Homo sapiens: one gene and its partner. The protein of the gene in region 1 interacts with the protein of each later gene in a biochemical or structural test. Each region holds a gene or a part of one and is shown on either strand. Other genes may lie near its edges.

Region 1 (3,500 bases):
TCATCTCTACCTATCTTCCCAAACTCACCTCTTCCTTTTATTGACTTGGCTCCAACCACACAGTCCTTTCAGGTTCTCCATGAGCCTTCTGCCTAAGAACCTTTATCATGCTGTTTCTTCAGCCTAGAATGATTTCCCTTCCTGACTCCCTGTTGTTTCTCACCCTCACCCATACCATTTTTCTCCCATCCACCCAGAATTCTGCTTAAAAGTTACCTCCTTGGAGAGCCTTCCCTGATGACTCAATCAAAAGTGTTCTTTCTCACAGCATCCCTTTTTTCTTTATATCACTTCCCTGCCACTATTATTTACTTTTAAAATATCTGCCACCACCTCCCCACCACAGGGACAGTGACCCTGTCTGTTTTATCATTCCATTCCTAACACCTGTACAAAGTAGGCAGTAAATATTTATTGAATTCCTGAAATCAATTCAGTAAATATAGATCAATCTTTATGTCAGGCTCTGTGCTAAGTGCTAAGAATGAAAACATAAAATAAAATATAAATAAATAAATAAAATGCCTATCCTCAATAACACTGCATGGAGTGGAGAAAGCAGAGAAGTAACAAGAACATTACAGCATAGCTTATAAGAGTTAGGATGGAGTAAATACAGGGTGCTGAGGGACACAGAGGTAGAGCACCCAAGCCAGACTCTGGGTAGTCATGGAAGGTCTTCTAAAGGAGGTGACATTTATATGGGGACCTGAAAGATGAGTAGGTGTCACATCAGCCAGGAAAAGGGGCCAGGAAAAGGATCCCAGGACAGAGAGAACGAATGCCTGATCTCCCAGAAGCAAAAGAGAACAAGGAATTTTCCAGGAACTGGAAAAAAAAAAAAAAAACCCAGCAGGAATGATTGATCATAGACTTATGAGACATGAGGTTGTAGAAAAGGTATGGGGCAAAGTTAAGCCTCACTGGTCAATATAAGGACTTTGGACAATGGATAACATTTGAAGGAATTTAAACAGAGTACTGACAAGATCAAATCTGTGTTTTAGAAAATTCATTCTGGCTTCAAGGAAGATAAATGAAAAGGTGTCAGTGAGGAGACAAGAACACCAGTTAAGAGGCTATTGCTGTATTCCAGGAGAGAACAGATGGTTGCCTGAATTAGGGGTAGTAACTGTGGGATTGGAGAGAAGGGTTTAAGATATTCAGGAAGCAATCCCGACCTTGATACTAACTGGGTGTGAAAAAGAGTGCAGTTTCAGGCAGTTGTGCTAAGAGGTGGGTCAGGGTATAAATGGAAGAGCTGCAGGTAGTTAGAGGAGAGACACTCCATTCAGGTCTCTTGGAGGAGGATTTGGGGGAGGTAGAGGAGATGAAGGGTAGGTATGTCAGTGAAAATGGACATCTCTGTACCATGCACTCAACAGGCACTATGTCACACTCTCAAATTATTATTCCTGTAATTACAAATTAAGAGACTGAGGCTCAGAGAAGTTACATGGATTGTCCAAGCTCACATAGCTGGTGAGAGACTGAGCCAGGTTTGAAACCCAATCTAATCCTACGTCTGTGCTCTTAAACAGAACACCAGGCTCAGAGGTCACATCACCCTGATCCTTCCAGTCACTGCCCTGTCTTGCCCCTAGCAGGGAAGAGGTGGGGGCAAGTTCTCTGCAGGGGATTTGAGTGGCGGGGATTGGGTGGGGAGAAGAAGTTCTGGACTCCCTGGTGCTGACCATCTCTCCATACAGAGGCTGGTGTGAGTGGCGGGAGCCATCTGTGGGCGCCATGGCAAAGAGGGAGGACAGCCCTGGCCCAGAGGTCCAGCCAATGGACAAGCAGTTCCTGGTATGCAGCATCTGCCTGGATCGGTACCAGTGCCCCAAGGTTCTTCCTTGCCTGCACACCTTCTGTGAGAGGTGAGGGGATGTGTGTACTGGGGAGGGATGAGGACCCTGTGGGGAGGATGAGGATCCTCCTCCCCTGTGGGGAGGGTGAGGGAGCATGTGTAAACCTGTAGTAGGTGAGGCAACATGCTTACCTGGGAGGAGAGCAGGTGAACCCCAACCTGCAGGAAATGAGGTTTTGAGGGCAAGAACCTGTGAGAGAACCATAAGAACCATAACACTGGGCCATGGTTCCTGTCAAGAATAGGGCCTTCTCTGTCCTTTCCCAAACCTCAAGGCAGCTTTTGACACCACCTAAGAAATCAAACAGTGCTCAGACTCAACCAGCTTTGGCATCAGCAATTTATGACTAGTTGGAGGATATTTGAAGTTAGGTCTGTCCTTCCCTGCTTGTCCTTGTTGTCCTCAGGTACTGAGTGAAAGGCAACCTGTCCCAGCCTCTAGGCTTCTATGGATCACTTATTCATTTAACAAATATTCATTTATTGAGCAACTACTATGTGCCAGACCCTGTTCTAGGCATTGGGTATGCAGTGATGAGCAAAAACAGATAAGATCCTTACTCTTTTTTTTTTTTTTTTTTTTTTTTTGAGATGGAGTCTCGCTCTGTTGCCCAAGGTGGAGTGTAGTGGCACGATCTCGGCTCACTGCAACCTCTGCCTCCCAGGTTCAACCAATTCTCCTGCCTCAGCCTCCGGAGTAGCTGGGACTACAGGCGCACGCCGCCACGCCCAGCTAACTTTTTGTATTTTATTACAGATGGGGTTTCACCGTGTTGCTCAGGCTGTTCTTGAACTCCTGAACTCAGGCAATCCGCCTACCTCGGCCTCCCAAAGTGCTGGGATTACAGGCGTGAGCTACCGTGCTTACTCTTTTTAAAAACTGATACACAATAGTTTACATATTTATGGGGAACATGTGATACATTGTTACACAAGCATAGAATGGGTAACAATCAAGTAGGGTATTTAAGGTATCCATCACTTACAATGCTTACTCTTAAAGAGCTAACAGTATAGTGAAAGAGAAAGATAGTCATCAAATAATCATATAGCCAGATTATAGATAAATATAACTTTTAGTAAGTGCTGCAAATAAAGTGCTGAGCTATGAGAGATTGGCATATGGAATCTGTTATAGTTTGGAGAATCAGGGAAGGTTTCCCTGAGGAGCAATTCAGAGGATGAATAGGAGTTAACTAGGTAAAGGGGGTTGGAAGAGCATTCTGCACAGAAGAAAGACCATTGGAAAAGCTCATGTGACATGAGAAAATATGTCAGGTAAGAGGCCTGGAGGAAGCCTGGTAGGGCTAGAGCAGAGTGAGTGTGACTGAGAGTATTATGGGATGAAGCTGGAGAGGTAGGTGGAGGCCAGACCACCTAGGGCTTTGTAGACCTGTTAGGGAATTTCACCTTTACCCTGAGAGCCACATGAAGCCTTTGCAGGGTTTTATATGTGATCACATCTGTATTTTGACAATATTCTCTTGGGCCCTTATCTCTCATTGTTCTGTCTTGGGTGGCCTGGTCCCTAGGTCTTCTCACCACCACTGCCTCTATCCGCACTTTTCCTCTGCCTTCTGCCCCAACGGAAACCTGGCTCTGCACCAGAGATACTGCTTCCCTGCCAGCCCTG
Region 2 (3,500 bases), on another chromosome or scaffold:
ATTTCTTTTATGGCCCTGAAAGCAAAAGACAATGTTCTCTTTTAGTTTCCTGCAATTAAATGATGTTAGAAATAGTCATCTTCACATTGGCGTACTTCCTCTTTCTTCTGTAGGTCTTTTAGAATTTTGAGTCCATTCTCATATTTTCTTGTTTCATTTGCTTTATTTTCTAATACATAGAAGTTTAAACTCCCTTTAAAGAGTTTTTGGCCTCTTTTACCCTATTAAGCTTTCTTTTTTCTTTTCTGTTTTAGTTGTTCCATCTGTGTATTCTCAGATATTTTTCTTTCACCTTTTCTGGTTTATTTCTTTATTGACCTGTCTCATCTGTTATTTTAATGAAATTTGGAACAGGGCTAAACAGAGTTCCTACCTCAGCCAGTATAAGAATATACCGTAATAACTCAGAGTGGTATTAACTAGATTAAAAGTTTCAAAAAGTGATGTTTTTCTTGTCTCTGAGGATAGAAACTTCAACAAAATAAAGAAGAAATTTTCAATTAGTAGAATTTCTTTGAAAGTTTGTTCATTCATTCATTTGGCTACCTTATTCCAAATTGAGTCATTCATTGAGGGCTTAGACTATATAAAGTGTGGTTTTGTTTTCCCAGCAGTTCATGCAACAGCATTGCACCTAGCAGCTGGGAAGTCTTATAGCATGAATAGGTGAGATTCTAATACCAGAATCTCCTGCATGTGTAAACTAACAGTGTAGTCTTGACTGTTGTCTCCCAGTAAACTTGGTTTCAGGAGTTTTAGATCCATGTGAACGTGTACAAGGCATTTTTGCTAACTGTAACTTCCCACTTAATCAACAAAAACAAAAACACTCATTTCTGAACATTCAGTGCATTCATGATTAATCTTAATTACACCACAAAGGTATTTTTCAATGGTGATTTTGCGGGAGTGGGGTAACAGTTTCGAAAGCAACATTGTCAGAAACATAGTTGATTTTAAAGGTTCTTTCTGGTGACTTTGACTTCTGCTTTTTTAGAAGACCTTACACAGAGTTGTATTTATTTCTCCTGGAATATTTCAAGCAATTCAGAGTGAAAGGGTATACATTCCAATTTGCGTATGAGATAAAATTTAGTTACATTGAGAAGCTATTTTCTTTAGTTACAGGGAAAAAATTGTAGGGCTTTTGGAAGCCTCTTTGATTTCTAATAGGAGGAATCCCTGAGCACTGGTCCAAACAGAAATCATCTCTTCTTCATTGCTGTATTTCCCTCAAGCTCTTAGCAAAGTGCATGGCACGTGAAAGCCCGGAGAAGCTGTTGGTTGAAAGAATGGATGGTGGTGGGCAGGAAGCATCAGGGACATGGTTTGCTTCAGTCTATTGGCTGGGAGAAAGGCCATTTAGGAAGGGATCCTTAGATGCCACTGGAAGAATGTGGGAAGTTTGTGAATCTCTCTTTCTCAGGAACAAAAGTAGAAAAAGGACTCCACACAGCATTCCAAGTACAGTCGGCCCTCATTATTCATGGATTCTGTATTTGCAAATTCGCTGACTTACTGACGTTTATTTGTAACCTTCGAGTCAACACTCACGGTGCTTTCTCAGTCCTTTGCAGACGTGTGGAATGGCAAAAAAATTTGAGTTATATGACGTATATGTTCCCAGCTGAGGCTGAGCAAGGCTCACTTCTCCTTGCAGCCCTCAGACTATAAACAAGTGTCCCTCTTGCTATCTACTTCGTGTTATGATTTTTGCATTTTCATAATCCCTGTTGATGATTTTGCTGTTTAAAATGGCCCCTAAGCATGGTCCTGAAGTACTGTCTAGGGATTCTAAGACAAGGCTCTGACGTGTCTTAAGAGAAAATACGTGTTTGATAAGCTTTATTCAGGCATGAGTTACAATGCTGTTGGCCATGAGTTCAATGATGGTGAATCAACAGGATATATTAAATACAGTGTTTTTGAACAGAAAAACATATAAAACAAGGTTATGTATTAATGAGTTGGCAAAAATGCTGTGACCAAAGGCTCCCAGGAACCTACCCTATTTTCCCCTCAATGCAATGGTTCAGTATTTGCTAATTCAGTGTTTGAGGTGACTTTATAGAACATGAGTACCATGAATAATGAGAATCGATTCTGTATAATAGAGTGATGAAAGCACAGGTCTGGGAGCCAGCAGCTATATTTCTATTCTGGCGTGACTCCTGTGTAGTTGTCATCACTGGCAAATTGCTTAACTGTGTGCCTCAGTTTCCTAATCTGTAAAAGCTACATCGTTTGGATGATGTGAGGATTAAACAAATTCATAGATGTCTAGGGCTTATAACATTCCTGGCACATAACAAGTCATTATTTTTTATTACTACTTCGGAAGGGAATTGAGTACTATACCCTGAAGAAGGTGAGTATGGGAATTCTCTACGGGTCTGGAATGTCCCTATATTTGTTTATTTTGCCTTCAAGTGACTAACTTTAATACCCTATTGTGATTAGAAGTTAAACTTCTGCAACCAAAAGGAAGCAGGAAGCTAGTATTTCTTGAAGTGCTTATTACATGCCAGGTACTGTGCTACAAAAACAAAACAAAACAACTGTAAAAAAAACTTCAAATTTGGCTGCGTGCAGCTGCTCATGCCTGTCATCCCAGCACTTTGAGGAACTGAAGGGAGGATTGCTTGAGTCCAGGAGTTCCAGACCAGCCTGGGCAACACAGTGAGACCCTGTCTCTACAAAAAAACAAAAACAAAAACAAAGGCACTCCAAATCAGTAAAAATTAATCAATCAATAAAAAGAGTGAGGGGCATTAAGTATTGTGGACTGAAGCAATCCCAGAGAGGGAATTAATTGAAGCTGAGGTAAGCAGCTTATGGAGAAGCTATGATGTACAGAGGGCAAGGAAGGAATTTTTCTGTAATTTGGAAAAATGGGAACTGTGAGAAAGAAGGAGTTGGAAGCTCATACTTAGGGAGCATCTACAAGGACGTCTTTTTCACGTTGGTTGGAATATCCAAATCAAGGATTATTTCAGAATCACCCAGATGATTAAAAAACTACTGAGATCCAGGTTGTATTTCAGCAGTTCTGACAATTGCTCTGGGTCGAAGCTTGAATCAGTAGTTAAGAAAAACAACAAACAAAACAAATTTTGGGGCTTTTCTCACTGATTTACAGTTAAAGCTCATTTACTCTTCCTATGACTTTAGATGGAGGATATTTCCAAGTCTTCAGGATGGAGACATGGAGGGAAGTGAGACTAGTGATGTGCCTCAAGGTTTTGCTGTTGTTCTAACCATGAGGAGCACTATTCAAACCCAGGTCTGCTAGATTTCCAAGTCTTCATTTCCTTGGGCCTCTTGGATTTCAGAAGCAGAGGGTAAAAGGAGTGCTGGGGAGAAAGATCACAGTAGCTTTCAATTCTACTCCTCAGCTTTCCAAAATAAGTTTCAAGACTGGCCGTTGCATTTGATATGGAATAAATACAAAGAAGGTAGATTGAAGGGTATGAAGATGCAGATTTTTGATACCAGATATG

Evidence for each region. Proteins that work in one complex are often made in the same cells at the same time.
Region 2: the proteins of TRIM3 (region 1) and ESR1 form a complex in vitro, tested with the Homo sapiens proteins (one study listed by BioGRID).

What each region holds. Positions count from the first base shown.
Region 1 is NC_000011.10:6,463,942-6,467,441, reverse strand, and holds part of TRIM3 (tripartite motif-containing protein 3), read left to right. Parts: intron 1-1,709; coding exon of another isoform or gene 1,710-1,746; coding exon 1,747-1,877; intron 1,878-3,500.
Region 2 is NC_000006.12:151,814,182-151,817,681, forward strand, and holds part of ESR1 (estrogen receptor), read left to right. Parts: intron 1-3,500.